2 separate regions of the Homo sapiens genome follow, and region 2 is linked to region 1. Evidence: fine-mapped expression QTL. Tissue or cell type: whole blood. Region 1 holds a variant in brackets; the other region holds the start of a gene. All regions are shown on one strand. Distances are between the middles of the regions.

The links. PIP is the estimated chance that this variant, and not a neighbour inherited with it, causes the effect.
Region 2: it holds the start of RAMP3, and the variant in region 1 is fine-mapped to the expression of RAMP3 in whole blood (TOPMed, PIP above 0.99).

What each region holds. Positions count from the first base shown.
Region 1 is chr7:45,247,640-45,257,630 of GRCh38, forward strand. No RefSeq gene overlaps it. Among named protein-coding and RNA genes, the nearest start is that of RAMP3, 95 kb to the left of the region's middle. The variant A/C (reference allele first, on the strand shown) is at 3,722.
Region 2 is chr7:45,154,053-45,164,043 of GRCh38, forward strand. RAMP3 (receptor activity modifying protein 3) reads left to right here and starts at 3,739. Exons shown (of 3, transcript NM_005856.3): 1 at 3,739-3,834. The coding sequence starts at 3,777.

The sequences.
Region 1 (9,991 bases):
CTATGTAGAACAAACAAAAAGAGATCTAAATGTAAACATATCATAGTCAAACTGAAGAAAGTCAAAGAGAAAATCTCGGCTGGGTGGAGTGGCTCACACCTGTAATCCTAGTACTTTGGGAGGCCGAGGCAAGCGGATCACCTGAGGTCAGGAGTTCAAGACCAGTCTGGCCAACATGATGAAATCCCATCTCTACTAAAAATACAAAAATTAGCTGGGTATGGTGGCGTGCACCTGTAATCTCGGCTACCTGGGAGGCTGAGGCATGAGAATTGCTTGAACCCAGGAGGCGGGTGTTGCAGTGAGCCAAGACTGAACCACTGTACTCCAGCCTGGGCGACAGAGCATGTTAAAAAAAAAGAAAAAAAAAAAAAAGACAGAGAGAGAGAAAATCTTGAAAACAGCAAGAGAAAAATGATTTATCAATTAGATTAACATTTGACTTCTCATCAGAAACCATGAGAGTCAGAGGACAGTGAAATGACATATTCAAAATGTTGAAAGTGTTGAAAGAAAGACTGTCAACTCAAAATTCTATATCCAATCAAATTATTTTTGAAAAGTGAAGGAGAAATAAAGACATTTTCAGATAAACAAAGACTGAGATAATTCATTGTTGGGGACATGACTTATAAGAAATATAATGAGAGTCTTTCAGATTGAAAAGAGAGGACACTAGACTAGCAACTCAGATCCACATGAAGAAATAAACCAGCAAAGGTTATTGTACAGGTAAAAGATAAAAGACAAAAGATAGTATAAAGATATATTTTTAAACTCTTTTCTTCCCCTAACTGATTTTAAATGACAACTGAAAAAAACAATTGCAAAATGGTGTTATAAGCTTTTAGTGTATAAAGTTGTAATTTATATGACAATTATAGCACAAAGGAGTGGGGAGAGAAGATACTATACTGAAGTCAAGTTTCTCTATACTATTGCAATAAAGTTAAGATTAAGTTAAAATATGTAATGTAATCCTCAAAGCTAGTGCCAAGAAAATGACTTAAATATTTAGTAAAGATAACAAAGGAAAATTTAAGAAATATTAGAAAAGAATAAAAATCCCAAATCAACAACCTAGGATTTTATTCAAGAATCCTAAAAATAAGAGAAAACTAAATAATTAAGATTAGAACTGAAACCAATGACATAGACATAGAAAAAATATGGAGAAAATCAGTAAATCCAAAAGTTGGTTTTTTGAGAAGATCAACAAAATTGGCTAACCTTTTTATTATTGAAAAAGAGGAAGAGGAGACACAGATCATCAAAATTAATAATGAAAAAGTGGTATTACTATTGATCTTTCAGAAAGTAGAGGATTAAAAGGGAATACTAAAAATAACTTTATGCCAATAAATTCAACAACATAGATGAAATGGATGAATTACTAGACAGACACATATTACTAAAACTGACTCAAGGAGAAATTAAAAATCTGAATAGAACTATGAGAAGTAAAAATATTTAATTAGTAACTTAAATTAGTAATTTATAAACTTCTCACAGAAAAAGCCCAGGCCCATATGGCTTCATTGGTAAGTTCTACTAAACACTTAAAGAAGAATTGACAACAATTCTTCACAAACTAGTCTAGAAAATAGAAAAAAGAGTAACAGTTCCCAACTGACTGTATGAGGCCCTGATACAAAAGTCAGTCAAACATACCACAACAACAACAACAAAAAAACGAAACTACAAACCCACATCTCTTACGAATATAGATGCAAAAATTATCAACGAAATACTAGCAAACTAAATCCAGCAAAATCTAAAAATGGTTAGACACTATGACCAAGAGGGATTTATCCTAGGACTACAAAGTCGATTTAACATTCAAAAAATCAACTAATATTAATAGAAGAAAGGACAAATGCCACATGGTCACTTCAATAGATGCAGAAAAAGTATTTGACAAAATCCAACGTCCATTCATGACAAAATACTCTCCATAAACTTGGAAAAGAAGGGAATTTCCTCAGCCTGATAGAAGTCATCTACAAAAAAACCTAAACTCATAGCAGGCGAAGATGTGTACACTTGCCACTTCTTTTCAAAACTTGCTGGAGGTTCTAGCCAGATCAATCAGGCAAAAAAAAAAAGAAAAGAAATGAAAGGTATCTACATTTGAAAGCAAGAAGTAAAACTGACTGTGTTTGCAGAAGACATAATCTTGCATGTAGAAAATCCTAAAGAATATACACACACACAAATATACACACATACAGGCTGTTAGAACTAATGATCAAGTATAACAAGGATGTACTATACAAGATCAGTTTATAAAAATCAATTGTATTTTGCCTGAACCCAGGAGGTGGAGGTTGCAGTGAGCCAAAATGGCACCACCGCACTCCAGCCTGGTGACAGAGTGAGACTCCATCTCAAAAGAAAAAAAAAAAAACCAATTGTATTTTTATTTACAAATAACCTGAAAATGAAAGTAAGAATACAATACCTCTTACAATAGCATCAAAAAGAATAACATAAGTAAGAATAAATTTATCAAAAGAAGTACAAAAATTGTATACTGAAAATTATGAAACATTATTGAAGTTGCCAGCCAAGATAAACTTAGATTCTTTCATTACTGTATACCAAAATAACTCAAAATGTATCATAGACTTTAAGGGTTAATAAAATAAAAATCTTGAAGAAAACCTAAGAGAAAATCTTTGAGACCTTGGGTTAGGCAAAGATATCTTAGATATAACACCAAAAGCACAGTTTGTAAAGGAACAAAAACTATAAATTGGACTTCGTCTTAACTTTTTTGCTTCAAAAGAAATCATTAAGGAAAGGAAAAGATAAGAACATATTTGGAAAAATACTTGAATAATAAATGCTGTTCAAAAGAAGTTCAAATCAAAAAGTTGTTCAGAAGAGAAGGAAAGCTAATGTGATAGTTCAATGAGTCGTGGAAGAAAAAGCTTTGAAGTTAGAAATATGCATTCACATTTCAGCTGAGCCATTTCCTACTTTTTTGCTTTGGGACACAATTTTCTGAGCCTGGGGATCATCAGGTCCACAGGATTGAAGGGTTGCTTGATGATTGTGGTTAGAGGTAAGCTCTTAACAAATGATGACTATTATTGTCGTAATAATACATGATATGGTCTTATTAAATAAGATAATGCATGTAAAGCACCTAGTAGTTCCTTGTGCATATTAAATATTCAAAAATGTTATCTATTATTAATCACTAAGTTATTATATCAGAATCCAAAAGGAAAGCTAAAGTATGATCATGCCCCATTTTAATTCTCTGAGTACTGTAAACCGAAAAATATATAAGAATTTCCAAGTTTTAACCAATGGAACACTTGTTTTAAAGCGATAGTCAGCTGGGCGTGATGGGAGGATTGCTTGAGCCCAGGAGTTCGAGACCAGCCTGGGCAAAATGGTGAGACCCCGTTTCTACAAAACATAAAATAATTAGCTGAGGCCAGGTGCAGTAGCTCACGCCTGTAATACCAGCAGTTTGGGAGGCCAAGGTGGGTGAATCCCTGGAGCTCAGGAGTTCAAGACCAGCCTGGGCAACATGATGAAACCCCGTTTCTACCAAAAATACAAAAAATTAGCCAGATGTGGTGGTGTGCACCTGTGATCCCAGCTACTTGGGAGGCTGAGGTGGGAGGATTGTTTGAACCTGGGAGGCAGAGGTTGCAGTGGGCCGAGATCGCACCACTGCACTCCAACCTGGGTAACAGAGTGAGAC[A/C]CTGTCTTAAAAAAAAAAAATTAGCTGGGCGTGATGGCACACACCTGTGGTCCCAGATACTTGGGAGGCTGAGGCAGGAGGATCACTTGGAGGAGGAGGTGAAGGCTACAGTGAGCTGTGTTGGCACCACTACACTCCAGCCTGAGTGACAGAGTGAGACTCTGCCTAAAATAATAATAATAACAAAGAAATAGTCAATCATTGTAAGTCAGTAATACGACAGGAGAAATTGGAAATCCTTCAGGGTGAAGATTTTATTTTAGTAACATGCTTTATTTTAGCACAAATGCATACCATGGACTTGCTGGGGATGGGTTGGGGAGGGATGATACAGTCGTTATAGAAAATCATATCATATTTTATTCATTATGCTTATTCATTCATCACATGGTCACTTTGAATTCTTACCATTCCTTATATTTCCAAGATCAAATTTGTTTCTTATTATGCTAATATCCCTATAAATTCCCAGTCTCCAGGAGGTCTGAGTTGGTTCTATTATGACTTATTCCACCTGCCAGGGGAGAAACTGTTCCTGAGAAATGAAGGGACTTTCCCAGGGCTTCAGGGTTAGAGAGTGGCTGGTTTTAGACAAACCGGTGCTACCCATACTGTTAACCCAACACAGGCATGCTTATAAGGAAAGGTTAAAAAAAGTAAAAGGAACTCGGCAAATCTTACCCCGCCTGTTTACCAAAAACATCACCTCTAGCATTACCAGTATTAGAGGCACCGCCTGCCCAGTGACATATGTTGAATGGCCGCGGCTTTCTACGTCTCTAGGGGCTGTGGAGAATACGTGAGAAGACCGCATCCCCTGCTCACATGCAGGGCATACCCTACAGTGGAGCTGTATGGGGCTGCCTGGAAGCCCCCTCACCCCAGGTAGAGAAGTAACTGACTCCATGACTCCTCCAGTAGCAGCCTCCAATGTGCAGGGAGGAGAGGCACTGAGCACCTGTGCCATCCCTGGCCTCTCATCCAGAACCCAGCCCCAGGGATGGGAGTGCTCCAGGCAATAAGTGGAGAAAAGCAGTTAAGTTAAACTCCCTGGGAGAGGCTGGGGCACCGTCTCAGCCAGCTGGGGCTCATATGATGGAATACAATAGCTGACGTGGCTTATAAACGGTAGAAATTTATTTCTCACAGTTCTGGAGGCTGAAAGCCCCAGGTCAGGGTGCCAGCACTGTGGGGTGACTGGTGGGGACCTGCTTCCAGCTGGGAGACGGTCACCTTCTTGTGATGTCCTCACATGATGGAGGGGACAAGGGAGCGCTCTCGGGCCTTTTTTATGAAGGTGCTGAGCCCATTCATGGTGGCTCTGCCCTCATGACCTAATTAGCTCCAAAGGTCTCACTTCCAAATATCATCACCTTGGGGGTTAGGATTCTAACATGAATTTTAGTCCATAATGGGCATTTCTCTCTCTCTCTCTCTGTCTCTGTCTCTCTGTCTCTCTCTGTCTCTGTGTCTCTCTGTCTCTCTCTCTCTCTCTCTCTCTGTGTGTGTGTGTGTGTGTGTGTGTGTGTATGTGAGAGAGAGAGAGAGATACAGACAAACAGAGATGGGGAGGGACCAGGAGATACTCCTTCCCATTGCATCACTGATCCATGCACAGTCTTGGCTCCTGTTTAGGGGAGCAGAAGTGTTTGGCTCTGCCCTCCTTTCAGAAAGGGGTAGTTGCCTGTTTACAGTAGGTAGGGCCATGCTGGGCTCCTCCCTCCCCTCCCTTGGCTGTGGTCCCTAGGTAACCAGGAGATACCCTGCAGGTCTAGCCCTGGCACCCTGTTTGCTCTTTGTTCTGCCACATCCCTTGAGGTCTGAGGGACACTGAGGTGAAGTTTGGTCCTGGAATGCACCTGACCACCTTCTCCTGCCCTTTCCTTGCACTTTGCTTCTCTGATCTCCTGGGAGAACTCTGCCATCTGCACTCTTTTTCTTAGTCTCTTTCTCTCTCCCTGTCTCCTTCTCTTCTCTCTCAATCTTGTTTTTCTTTCTCTTTCCTCTCAATCTCTCTGTCTGTCTCTCTCTTTCTTTGCCTGTCTCTGTCTCTCTGTGTCTGTCTCTGTGTCTTTCTTTGTGTCTTTTTCTCTCTGTCTCTCTGTGTCTCTCTCCATCTTTTCCAGGGCAGACATCCTGCCTTGCCATTTCCTGCATGTGTTTCTCTTGTCCATTCCAAGTTCAGAGCAGCCAGAAACAGCAGCCACACCCCAGTACTGATCTGAGCAGAGACCAGGCATGGACTATTGGGCAAATCCTTATGGCTCACATCATAGACTAGGTCAGGAAAATATCGTTCCTCTGTTTCTTTTCTGGGATTCTCAAGGACTGTGGATGGTAGGTGGTGCCACCTGATTGGAGTAAGAGAATGGGTGTGTAGGTACCCTCCCAGGAGGGTGAGCAGATCTTAAATGATAAATCCACTTGAACATTCTAATTTCCCTAAGTCTTTTTTTTTTGAGACGGAGTCTTGCTCTGTCAGCCAGGCTGGAGTGCAGTGGCACCATCTCGGCTCACTGCAGGCTCCGCCTCCCGAGTTCACGCCATTCTCCTGCCTCAGCTTCCAGTGTAGCTGGGACTACAGGTGCACGCCGCCACGCCCAGGTAATTTTTTTGTATTTTTAATAGAGACGGGGTTTCACCGTGTTAGCCACGATGGTCTCGATCTCCTGACCTCGTGATCCACCCGCCTTAGCCTCCCAAAGTCCTGGGATTACAGGCGTGAGCCACCGCGCCCGGTCTTCCCTAAGTCTTTGAATCCCTCCCTCTATAGCATGTCAAGGCAGGTCCATCATTTCAAGCTCACTTACTGTAGGCCACCTTCTGGCCCGTGTTGCAGTCAACCAACCAAACAGAACCTTTTCTAACTCCTTGAGCTGCAACATTAAATAGAGAATCACTGCTTAGGGAGCCCATATCAATAAATTCAGCCTGATCCAATCCAACTTTTTATGTTTCTTTCACTATTATCCAACACCTTTAATATCCATTTCTACGCATGCTTCCCAGACTTCTGTCTGTATAAATTAGAAAACCAAAGTATTTTTATTATTATTATTATTTTTTGAGTCTCACTGTCACCCAGGCTGGAGTGCAGTGGTGTGATCTCAGCTCACTGCAACCTCCGCCTCCCCAGTTCAAGTGGTTCTCATGCCTCAGCCTCCAGAGTAGCTGGGATTACAGGCACCCACTACCATGCCTGGCTAATTTTTGTATTTTTAGTAGAGACGGGGGTTTCACCATGTTGGCCAGGCTGGCCTCGAACTCCTGACCTCAAGTGATTCGCCCACCTTGGCCTCTCAAAGTGCTGGAATTACAGGTACAGGCATGAGCCACTATCCCTGGCTAAAGTGGTTCTTTGGGAGTGCAGCACACCTCCTCATGGGGCACACTTTGATCCTTACTGTTAAAGGCATGCTGGGACTCTGGTCTAGTTCTAGCTCTAGAAGCAAAAAGGGGTGTTGGGGTTGGGTCCCAAGGAGAATCAGCACTGTTTTGCATGGCAGCTGCCTCAGGGGAGGCCTTTGCAGCTTCCCCAGGCAATGCAGAGTTAATCCCCTCAGTCAGGGCTGGAGAGGCTGCTTCTACTGGCAAGGAAGACTTACCAGAACACAGAGGATCAATGTCTCCAGTTTCATCAGGGTCTTCCCACATGTCCCCATGAAGTGGCTACCTTGTCTGGGGTATATAACTGGGGTTCGTCATCTTGTGCCAGGGAAATTTAGGACACGAACACTCATGAGGAGTTTAGGAGTGGAGGCTTAATAGACAGAAGAAAGAGAAAGGAGAACAGCTCTCTCTATTGAAAGAAGGGACTTCCAAGCGGAAAGACTGGCTGGCAGGGGATGTGTGGGATTTTATAGTCTGGCTTGAGGAGAGGGTGTCTGATTCACGTAGGGCTCACAGATTGGTTCCATCAGGTATGACGTTTACATGGTGTGTGGGGAAGGCTGGTCACCGCACCCTAGTCTTACAAGGCAAATAAACTCTCCCCTTGGCCAGCAGCCATCTTGTCTGCTCCTTACTGTACAGGTGGCTGGCAAAGAAGGGAAGTTGGAGCCGCCATCTTGAACATGTCTAGTCCCTAGTTCCTGCCGGCATTCACCCGTGCAAGCTCCCAGCCTGCTTGTCTATGTCTGCAGCTCAACATTACAGGCTGCTCTTTGTTAGAAAATGATTTGGGGCTGCTTTTCATTAAAAACAAAATCTTACCGAGGACTCCCATGCCCTCACTATTTGCCTAAGTGATTTGTTCTTAGACGGCCACAGAGTCTCAGTAATGCCTCGGTAATAACTCCTGTATCACCCATACCAATTTTCAGTATCATTTTCTTCCCAATCAATTTCTCATTTTAAGAGTAGACATCCTGCTTGGTTGTCCAATTCAATTTGTGTTGTAATTCAGCCACTTGTAGGGTGTGATTCAATTATAGTTTTGGTTTTCAGCAATCTCAGCTCTGCAGCTACAGAAAATAAGGGTCTCTTTCAGGGCAGGGATAGAAGCTTTCAGGTCATTTATGCGGAGCTTGAGCTGAACATTTGATTTCCCGAGCTCATCCTTTTCTTTCCCCGCTTTGTCCAGTGACATCAGGAGCAGTCAACCAATCTCATTATACTTGTTAGTTTGATTAAAAATGTTTGATGGTACCATATGCATGACCACTCAGATCCTTGGCTCTTAATAAATTTTTGATTATGAGTATTCAACAGTGATGTTTTACCTAACTCTACTGTTACATCACACCATGGACTATCTGCATTCTCTCTACTATTAGGAGTAGTCATCAGTGCCTTTAAAGGTAATCAGCTTAGAGAGCCAATTCCAGAAACCCCAGAAGCAATTCAGAAAGCTCCTGAAGATTTAAGATCTTAAGGATTCTCAAAATGCTTAAGATTCTGTTCCTCTAGAACCATCCTTGGTATTAAAATCTGTAGTAGTCCATATAAACAGAATCAATAGGTGGTAGAAATCTGTCTGTATCTGTATTTCTCCAGCTCTATCTCGATGTCCATCTATCTATATTTATCTATAGACAGAGGAATTGGCTCATGTGATTATGGAGGCCAGCAAGTCTGACATCTGCCGGGCGGGCCAACAGGCTGAAGACTCAGGGAAGAGTTGATATTACAGTTTTGAGTCCAAAGTCAGTCTGGAGGCAGACTTCCCTCTTCCTCGGGGGACCTGAGTCTTTTTCTCTGAAGATGTTCAGCCGATTGGATGAGGCCCACTCACACTGTGGAGGGTCACCTGCGTTACTCAAAGTCTGCTGGTTTCAACGTTGATCTCATTTAAAAACATACCTTCACAGCAACATCTAGACCGGCATTTGACCAAACATCTGGGTGTCATGGTCTAGCCAACTTGACACATACCACAAGCATAATTTGAGATAGGAAATAAACATGGGAGAGGTTTGTTGAGGGGACAGGTGGCCACAGAGTCTCAGTAATGCCCTGTTCATACCCACTTCACAGCCCTCTGTGGATGGAAGCTAACTAGTCCCAGGAGGAGTCATGAAGAAGTGGTGGCTGGCTTTGGGAGTAGCCTGCCTCATGGCACTGCTAGTCTCTCCTGAGGGCCCAGCCGCCCCTGAGGACCCAAGCTTTAGGGTGAAGACTAGCAGATGAGCAGGACAGAGAACTGCTGATGTACAGAAACTGTTCTCTTGCTCTCTTCCTCCACGCCTGGGCCTGAGAACCTGGAGCTAGCTCTTTTTGGAGTTACAGAATTGGGAGAGAGGCCTTGGCTTCTCCTGCTATGACTGACTGATGACATGAGGAGCAGGGATGGTATGAGCCCTCAGACCTGGTTCCTTCCAGACCTGCCTGGGGCAAGTGGTGGCCCTGCTCCTCCCGTGCAACCCTTCCTTCTGGAGGGTCAGGAAGCCTGTCTCTCTTTTCCTCTTTGTCCCTGGTGTGTCCTTCTGGGTAAATGTGTCTGCTCTGCACACTTGAAGCTGCCCATGGAGGGGGTGTGTAGGTGGGAAGGAGTCCAGCTGTGGCTGCATGCCAGGCTCCAGAGTTTCCAGTGCACCTCACCAGTGGCAGAGTTGAGACACACATGTGCACACATGCACACACATGCACATACACATGCATACTCATGCACATACCCACAGCCACACACATACACATGGACCCACATGCACACATGTGGACACACAGAGACACACATGTACATGCACACACATACACATTTTCTATCAAACTGGCCTGTTTCCAGTTGGCTCCAGCCCACCAGGTGGGCAGTGAAGGTATGCTTACTGTCCT
Region 2 (9,991 bases), 94 kb before region 1:
AGCACTTCGGGAGGCTGAGGTGGGCGCATCACCTGAGGTCAGGAGTTCGAGACCAGCCTGGCAAACATGGTGAAACCCCATCTCTACCAAAAATACAAAATTTAGCTGGGCGTGGTGGGAGGGCCTGTAATCCCAGCTACTTGTGAGGCTGAGGCAGGAGAATCGCTTGAATCCAGGAGGTGGAGGTTGCAGTGAGCCGGGATGGCACCATTGCACTCCTGAGTGACAAGAGCAAAACTATGTCTCAAAAAAAAAAAAAAGGAAATTCATCTCAGCCTCCACAGTATCTGAGACTACAGGCGCACCTCACCACACACGGCTAATTTTTGTATTTTTTTTGTAGAGGCGGGGTTTCACCATGTTGCCCAGGCTGGTCTAGAACTCCTAAGCTCAAGCAGTTAGCCCACCTCGGCATCTCAAAGTGCTGGGATTACAGGCATAAGTCACCACACCCATCCTAAAATGCTTGATTTGACGTTAAGTATTTTTTATTGCAATTAAACAAATGAGCAAACAAACGCAACAGGAGATGGAAGGCTGTGTCTTGATCCGTGGGAAGGTGGAAAACAGCTGAGGGTCAGAGGCACCCCTTCCTGGAATCTCCTTCATCACCCTTCTTTGAAGACCGGTCCTCTGTGTCCCTGGAGAGGGGTCACCGAGGCGTTGCTGCTGCCTCAGGGACAGAGGCGTAGTCTCATCGACAATGATACCGTTATTTCAGTGTCTGTCCAGCAGGGGGAGCCAGGTGCCCGGGAATGGCTTCCCTTGGCTCCTTCTCAACCCCCACCCTCCTGAAGTCTAGCCCCAGAGCAAGCAGAACCAGATCCCAAACCTCACCAGGTTCTGTGCTCAGGCCCTTGCCTGGACACGTGGACTCCGGGCAGAAGCATTACTTCCAGGGAGAGTGAAGGCCCAGCGGCCATGTGTTCCCCTGATCTGGTAGAAACACCAGGATGTTATTTCTTCCTCTTAGAAGAGGCCACTTGAGTGTCAAGAAAATGTTCTCTTACAACTATTTAAGAATAAGAGGAATCACAGAATAAATATCATGATAATGGTGAATCAGGGCTTGATCAGGAGAGAGACTACACCGCAACCTGAATGGGGAAGTTTGGTGTAAAGAATTATGAACCGGCCGGGCGCGGTGGCTCACGCCTGTAATCCCAGCACTGTGGGAGGTCGAGGCAGGAGGATCACCTGAGGTCGGGAGTTCGCGACCAGCCTGACCAACATGGAGAAACCCCGTCTCTACTAAAAATACAAAAATTAGCCGGGCATGGTAGCACAAGCCTGTAATCCCAGCTACTCGGGAGGCTGAGGCAAGATAATTTCTTGAGCCCCGGAGGCAGAGGTTGCAGTGAGCCAAGATCATGCCATTGCACTCCAGCCTGGGCAATAACAATGAAACTCCTTCTAAAAAAAATATAAATAAATAAATAAATAAATAAATAAAATAAATAAATAATTATGAACGCTAAGAGGGGATTCCTGAGAGGACCCCAGTGCACACAGGATCGCAGACACAGGGAATGGTGCCGGGGCCAGCACCCACCGAGGGACAAGCAGGGAGACAGGTGCTGTCCAGGGCACACCCCATGGTCAATCTCATTTATGGCGGCAGCCTTTCCACACTCAGGGTCGGGGGGATGCACCGTGGAAGGGGCAGGTCCCTCTCTCCCATGGCTCAGCTCCTCACAGCCTGTGTTAAACCCACCTGCCCTGCAGAGGCCATGGGCACCACTGGGCACAGAGAGGAGAAGTGAGGGCCCTGCCTTAGAGGGACCTAGGGGCAGTAGACACAACTCCCTGGGAGTTTGTTGGGGCATGGTTGGTTCCATGGAGGAGAGGTGTTGGAACCCAACTCTGTAGAATGGCCAGGGCTTCCCCACTGCAGAGCCAGGGTGGGGAGTCCAGGAAAGGGAGCATTGCTCCCTGGTGCAGGCTTGGGGGAACTGGCTGCCCCCCTCCCACCTGACAACCCCATCCTACTGTTCCAGCCTGCAAGCTATGTGCAACCGCCTTTGGGGCTGTGGGACCGAGTGGAGACTAAGACTCTCCTGGAGAGAGCTGTAGGGCCGAGTCTGTGTGGGATGTGGGTGGACACCTGGGCCTGGACCATCCTCTTGGTTTGTCTTGGCTGGTGTAGGGTGTGCGTGTGTGTAAGCCAGCCCCCTGCTGCCCTGGTCAGCTTGTTTTATGACCCCTGGCCTGTGGGCAGAAGGCCTGGCTGTGGGCACCATCAGTCTCACTAGAGGCTCTGTGGCCACCCCTACACCTGCTGCCCACCCCTCAGGCAGAAGGCAGGACAAATGATCAATTTTAATTAGTTTTGACTCCTTTGAATTAATTCTGGCTGTAATCAGAATTTCTTCAGTAAAAAAGCACAGAAAGTTCTTCTCCCGAATAAGGGTCTTGTTAAATAAAGTGGGTCTTTCTAAGCCAGGAGAAGTTCAGCTCAGCTCCTGGGAAGGTAGCAGTACCTACGGCTCAGAGGAGTGGAGGGCCCATCCATGTAGGAGCCTGGGCCTGTGCCCCAACCTCAGACCAGCATGTGCCCCCAGGGGTGGTGGGTGGGCCCTGGAGGGCAGAGAGGTGCCTCTAGCTGGCTCTCGGAAGTCCTGACCAGTGACAATTCTTAAGACACCATTAAGTGTCCACTGGAGCCAGGGCCTGTGCTAGGGGCTGAGGGTGACAGAGGTGACCCATCTGGCCAAGTGACCTGTGGCTGGAGAAACTGAGGCCCTCCTTCGCCTCAGGGACCCTGACACTCTTCAAGGCCAGGTCTTTGGTGGTGCCAGATACTCTCCTGTCCCTTGGTTTGCTTGTGGCTTGGTTCTTGGTGTGTGATACGTCTCTGTGTGTGTAGTTGCCACACCCTCCAGTCTCTCTCATACACACTGTTTCCCAAGCATACACTCACAAACACACCTTGTCTCAGACTCAAACACACACATGCCACACACACACCATACATCACACACTCCATGCACACACATGCATCTACACACACCCCACATGCACATCACACACACGTACTCCATGAACAACACACACACGCACACACACAGACGCACACACACACACCCCCCAACCTCTTTTATGCACTTTCCTGACCTTTGGAGACCTGGCTCCTAGATGTATCTCTGCTCAAAGTTCCCCTCCCTGCCTGGGGGCAGCTCTGGACTCTGGTCTACTTTCGGCCAGGGCACACCTAGCCCACTCCCAGGTCCACCTTCCTCCAGTCTACCCCCAGACTCCTCTAGGCCATCATCAGCCAGCGCTTCATCCTCACCTCAGCTCCCTCCCCGGTCTACCCCCACCCTCTGCCCCTGAGCCTGGACGGAAGTTCCCCAAGTCTCTCCAGCCTGCATCCCAGCCCACCGTCAGCCGGCCCCCACGCTCACCCCAGCTCACCTCCCAGTCTGCCCCTACAATCTGCTCCCAAAAAGCTCCTTTGCAGCTCAGCACCCCAGCCCCGCCCTCAGAGCCCATCAGCCGGCACCCCACCTTACCCCAGCTTGTCCCCAGCTCGAAACCCTGCCCTCGCCCCCCTCTCACCCCGCTGAGACTCCAGCCGCCCCCATCCCTCCCACCCGGCGCGCCTGCAGGGACTGCACCCCACATCTGGAGGCAACGGGGCACGGCCGCAGGCGTGGTCTGGGGGTGCGGCCTGAGGGCGGACCCCCTGAGGCCCCGCCCCACCCCAACCCCAACCGGGCGTCCCCCAGCCGCGCCCCCAGCGGGACCGAGCGTGACCCAGCTGCGGCCGGCCAGCCATGGAGACTGGAGCGCTGCGGCGCCCGCAACTTCTCCCGTTGCTGCTGCTGCTCTGCGGTAAGGGGGCGACGGCCCGCACCGGGGGCGCCCCCACTCCTCGGGGTTCACCGGACCCGGGTGGACCCGCGCCTTCCCGCACCTGCGCCGCGGTCCTTCCCTTGCCCCGGAGCTCGGGAGGGGCGCACAGTGACCCTGGCGGGATTCCCAGGCTCTGCGGGAGGGTTCCACCCGGGAGAAGCTGAAGGCGAAGGACTCTGGCGGGCAAGGGAGGCACAGGGCCCCCTCCGGGGTCTTCTGACGGCAGGGTCCGGCAGCCCCCGGTCCTTCTAGTTGTGATGTCCCCCCACGCCCCGGTTCTGGGGTCGCCTCAGGGTGGGCGAGAAGAGGTGGACCAGGTCTGGCTCTTTACCCCTTATCCCCCAGGGTGGGCTGTCTGTAAGGTAGTGAGCTCTCTGTCCTGGCATTGAGTGCCTGCCCACCACTCACAGGGGCGTGGGCGGGTGGACTCCGGACTGGGTAGCTGGTCCTCCCAGGGCCCCTCAGTGTGTGGACGCCTGTGTGTGTCCTGGAACTGGCTGAGAGGGGAAGCGGGGCGACTCTCTGAGCCATCCTCTCCTAATGCCTTCTTCGGCAAGAAATCAGGACTCTAGGAAGAACCATTGCTCACAAAATGGAAATAGATTAAACTAAAAGCTTGTTTTGAAGTACCTTGCTAAAGAAATTATCCAAGAAAAAGTAAGAGAGAGAGAGAGAGAGAGAATGTGTGTAAAGGCTGTTGGGGAAGAGTGCTTGCTGAGGGCTGGGGTCCACTGAGTGGTGACTGAGCCTGGCCAGTTCTGGGGGGGACATTGGTGATGGAGGGCCCTGGCCTGGTGGTCCCCAGTTTCCCTGGCTGTAAGATGCAGAGTTGGGCCTGTTTTGATGATTTGGGATTTGGTACGGGAGGTGGGAAAAGGGTGGACCAAACTCAGTGGTCATTTTCCTTCCATTGAAGAGGTCTTGGTGTGCAGAACTTGTGTGGCTTCATTTGGTGTTCCAGGGCTGGAGCCTAGGATGTGGTGGATTTTGTGTTGAAGTGCAAAGGTGGATGGCAGCTTCTGAAATCAGGAGCATGCTGATTTGGGATTTCAGCAAACTTCCAGTGAGCGCCCCTTAGGTGGAGATCTTGGTCGCTATAGTGGAAGGAAGGTCCTCTCAATTCATTCTGGGAGAAGCTGAGGCTTTCCTGATCATCTCCAGTATCAAATTGAGAAGGACCACAGGCTTCCGCCTGCACAGAATCCCCCCTTAATAATCCTGTCTCTCGTGGACCCAGTTCCTGAGGGCCACTTCTTTGTCCTGTTGTGTTGGTCCTGACTGTCCCCCTCCAATGGGACATGGGTTCACGCTCCCTGGCCAGAATAGGGACCAGGTCCAGCTTCTCAGCAGACCCTCCCAGTGTTCGACTGGCCAGAGTGAGATTCAGGGAGAGGTAAAACTTGCTCATGGTCCCAGGCCGATGTGTCAGAGGTATCCGGGACTGGAACCCACATCTGCCCTGGATGCTGCTGTGTCTGGAAGGAAGGAGCTGGGTGGGTTCCTCTTGACTGAGGACTAGCTCAGGAGGACCAGCAGGGAGGGTGCAGGCCTCTGGGGCTTCTTTGAGAATTCCAGACCTTTTTCCAGAAAGCATTTGATGCTGTGTGGGGCTGTGGGGATGCGAAGTCCAGCAGTTGTCTACTCAGCAGGACACTTTGCTGTGGTGCCCAGCTCTTGACTGGACTCTTCTGGTCTGGGTGAAAATCCTGATCATGATCCCAAGATTATAAAGCACTCACTGGCCTCAGTTTCCGAGCTGCAATGTAGATGTAATAATAGCAATCTGTAAAGGGCTGCTGAGACCGTCAGTTTGATTCCATTCAGTTTAGTCCCTATCACCTTGTGTTGGGCATGGGATTGTGGGGTGGAAGGGTTCATGCTTAAACAAGGGGAGGTATGGGAAGGCACCCACCAGTGACTGCACTGGGCCTCATGAGGCTCACTCACAGCACCCAAAGATGGAGCACCATAGTGTGTGTGCCTGTGTGTGCAAGCGTATGAACATGGTACCATCGTTTTTATCATTAAATGATGTCCTGCTGCCATGTTACCTGTGGTCATATTGATTCTACTGAATCAAGTGGGCCCAAGGGCCATGGTTGGATAGCAGTAACTCTGGTGAATTAAAGACTTGGAGGTGGCCGGCCGGGTGCGGTGGCTCACGCCTGTAATCCCAGCACTTTGGGAGGCCAAGGCGGGCAGATCTCGAGGTCAGGAGATCGAGACCATCCTGGCCAACATGGTGAAACTCCGTCTCTACTAAAAATACAAAATATTAGCCGGGTGTGGTGGTGCATACCTGTAGTCTCAGCTACTCAGGAGGCTGAGGCAGAGGAATCGCTTGAACCTGGAAGGCGGAGATTGCAGTGAGCCGAGATCATGCTATTGCACTCCAGCCTGGTGACAAAGCGAGACTCTGCCTCAAAAAAAAAAAAAAAAAAAAAAAAAAAAAAAAAAAAAAAAAGACTTGAAGGTGGTGATTGGCCAAGAAGAGGCCCATAGATTTTTGGCACTGGAGGTTCCTTGGAGGTTATCTGACCTCCATGCTCTTACCTATTCTTCATAAGGAAACAGAAATCTGGAGGTTAGAGAGGAAGTTGCCCAACCACAGAGACCAGGGGCAGAACCGCCCAGAATCCACAGCCTCCCAAGGTCGACTGACCGTGGCCCATGGCAGCCACTTGCCAGTCTCGTCGATGCTCTTTCTGTCAAGGAGGGGGAGAGCGCCTGTGTTTCATTTCCAAATGACTAGCCACAAAAGCCCTTTCTGGCGGAAATGCATCTGTTTGGCTGTTTATCATCTCTCAGTGGCGTCTGGAAGTCCCTGAGACAAAAGAAACACAGGCCGGCATGTTCTTTGTTTCCCAATGAAACCAACCAAAATGGATTTCTATTTTGATTCAGTTCCTGCGACCTTTACTAATGCAGCCAGTAGCTTGATTGGCAATGGCCCTCTTTTGTGGTGTTGCCAGGAATCTGTCTTTACACCATTGTTCTAACATTGGGTGGGTTGTCAGGTTTTGCTGGGAGCCCCTCAAGCCTCATGTGCACTAGAAATGAGCTCCCTGGGGAGGGCACTTGGTTTCTCAGGGTGCCTGCCTTGTGCAGGCCCAGGGCTGGTGCTGTCACAGGCATCCTCATAGCACCTCCGTGGGTAGAGGAGTTATCCCAGAACACCTGCCTGAGGATGGCATGTGGTCCTCAAAGGCACATTTACAATCTGCCTGAGCCAGGTCCTTGCGATGGGGCATGTGAAGATTATGGAGTATGTAGAGATTTGGGGCATGCAGAGATTCAGGGAGGGGCATGTTGTCAGGGACCCCTCCTTCTCTTTTTAGATAGCTGTGCGACCTGGGTGGGTATTTGTAGAGCCGTGGGGGAGGGGCTGGGCAATGCCCTGGCACTGGGGGTGGTGGGGAATTGATGCTGTCTTTGCCTGGCTCAGTGAGGGAGATCAGGGGCTCAGGGAGAATAATAGTTGCCTGAGGGTAATGAATACTTATCAGGACCTTGTCCCTGAGCTGTGTTTCAGAGCATCATAGTTAATGTGAAAATGTGGCAGACACAGGCCCTGTGTAGGGAGGTGGGCTGTAGGAACAGCCATGACTTGGGCTGGCTGCGGCAAATACCTCCAGGAAAGGGCTGGGGAGGAGAAGGCAGTGGTTCAGATTCATTCTGACTTCCAAGAAGAGGAGGAAGGAAGGAGAGGAGAGGAAACAGGGGAGGGGGAGGAGGGTAAAGAAGGACAGGGGAAGGAGGAAGAGAGGAAGAAGGGGAAGGAGGGGGAGGCAGAGGAGGAAGAAGAACTGGGCTGGGTCTCGGTGGCCTGATAGGTGACAGTCAGAGTAGGCTGAGGGGGGACCAGGCCAAGTGGTCCAGGTCTAGGGGTTCAGATTCAGACCTAGGGGTCCAGGTGGACCAGGCTGCAGGTGTGGGCACTGGCCAGGAGGGACAGGGTGGGGCTAGCCTGGCTCGTGCCCATTGGGATGGTGGGCGGAGCTCAGGAGACCCACCCAAGGGTGCTGAGAGAATCTGTTAGGGAGTGACGCCAGACCCAGGGGTGAGGACAGGAGCTGGATGTGGAGAGCAGCTAGGCGAACCTTCAGAGTCCAAGGCAGGGGCAGCTTTAGGGTGAAGGTGCACAGGCCGCCTTAGTCCTCGTGTGACTCCACGTGGTCCCTGGGGCTTGCACCCCTTGGTCACTTATGCCAGGGCTGTCTTTTCACCTGCAGGCAGGTGCAGTTGAGCAGGGTGGCAGAGGGAGGCCTTGGGAAAGTCGCTTTCTTTTGGGCCTCCATCGTCCCATCTCTAAACTGAGGGAGGTGGTGAAGGAGGCATGATGTTTTTCAGGCCCTTCCCAGGATCAATGCCGACCTGTACTCCAGAATCTGTTGCAGAGCCCAGGCTTGACATGGAGCTTGGAAGTGCCCACTGGGAGAGAAGGAAAGGAAGGTGGGGATCGGGGACCAGGGCTAAGTGGGGCCACTCCAGCCAGGAGCCCTCAGGGCAAGGAGGTGAGCCTTGGATGCAGCCCTGCTTGGCAGACCAAGGGTGGGAATTGGAGTGAGGGTGTCAGTGTGAGGCAATGGTGACATGCCACCTGGAGACAGCTCTGTGGGCAGGTGGCCTGGCTTTGAACCTTGACTCCCCTGCCTTGTCTAAGTGAGGAAGCAGCTGACCCACCCTGCCACAGGGTTTCAGTCTTTAAGTACCTGCCCTGTCTGGCTGTTGTAGGGCTTGGCGGGTTGGGCCACACTTAGAACAGGGCATTCAGGGAGCACTGGTCAGTACTGAGGGGGGTGGAGAGCCTGGCTGAAGGGAAAGAGAAATGGGGCAAGGGTCTGCCAGGTAGGTGCCACTGGTTCTGTTTCTGAATGGGGACATTGAGGCTCAGAGGGGCAAGTGAGTGAGTGTCAGGGTCAGGGGCAGAGCCGAGGTGAGCACCTAGAGCCTTCTGGCTCCTGCTTGCTGCTCTTCCATCCCCCATGCCCTTACTCCTTGGAGTGTGGTCCTCGGACCTGCAGAAGGGGCTTGCCTGGAGCTTGCAGAGATGAGTGCTTTGGCCTCCAAGCCTGCTGGACTGGAATCTACATTGCTTGAGGTCTTCAGGTGATGGCCTGCACATCTGAGTGGAGACACATTGCTTTCCATCTCTCAGTCTCAGCCTTGACCCCATGTCTGAATCACTTGGAGGTTTTAACAAACATGAATTATTGGTTTCACACCCCAGAGGCTCCCATGCAATAGGCCTGGGCTGTGGCCTGGGTGAGCCTATTGTGCAGTTGACTCTGCTGGGTCTGTCCTATCTCTGGTGGCTGCCCTGAAAGATGACAGTGCCCAGAGGAACTAGGGATAGAGCCCCCAAGCCTCAGGGCTTTCTGGGTGGGTTCATGAATGGTGGTCCCTACCAGCCTTATAGAAGAATGGCTTCACTTTTGAGTCTCTTATTACTTTTTGGTTCCTTCAAAGCACTTCAGGGTCTAGAGCTGTGCTACAAGAGAACCTGGGGTCAGCAGCTTGGGATACACAGAAGTGGGAGCTGCTGGTGTCCAGGAAGGAGGCTGTGGTAATGGGGGACAGTCTGATTGTGGAGGAAGAGGGGCAGGTGCTGCCAGCAGCCAGAGGGTCGTGGAGCAGCAGCTCATGGGTGGGACAAGCTGGAGGCTGGGGTCAGCAGTGGTGGGAATAGGAAGTTGGGGCCCGATGGAAGCTAACCTTGACAGAGATTTTGTAGGTGCACAATTATTAACCAATGGAAACACACAGAATCAGAATCACTCTTTTTTACAGATGGGGAGACAAAGGACCAGAAAGGTGAAGGGCCCTGCTTGGAGTCACACAGCAAATCAGGAACTAAACAGGATGAGGTCTCTGTCTTCTGGCTCCGTGCCAGTGGGGCATCTGGAGGGTGGCACGGTCAAGCTTCAGAAGGACACGGGCCTCCATTCCTGCAGAGATGGTATGGCTTCTCTTGAAGGGACGCCAGCTTCAGTCCTGGCTGATGCTTGCCCAGGATTCCATGATGTGAAGGTTCAGAGGGCCTATTTGGGTTAAGTGGGAGAGTACTGTGGCTGAAAACCCACTTCTGCCTTTCTATTAGACTTTAAATAAACTCTGAAGACCTGTACATCCTGCT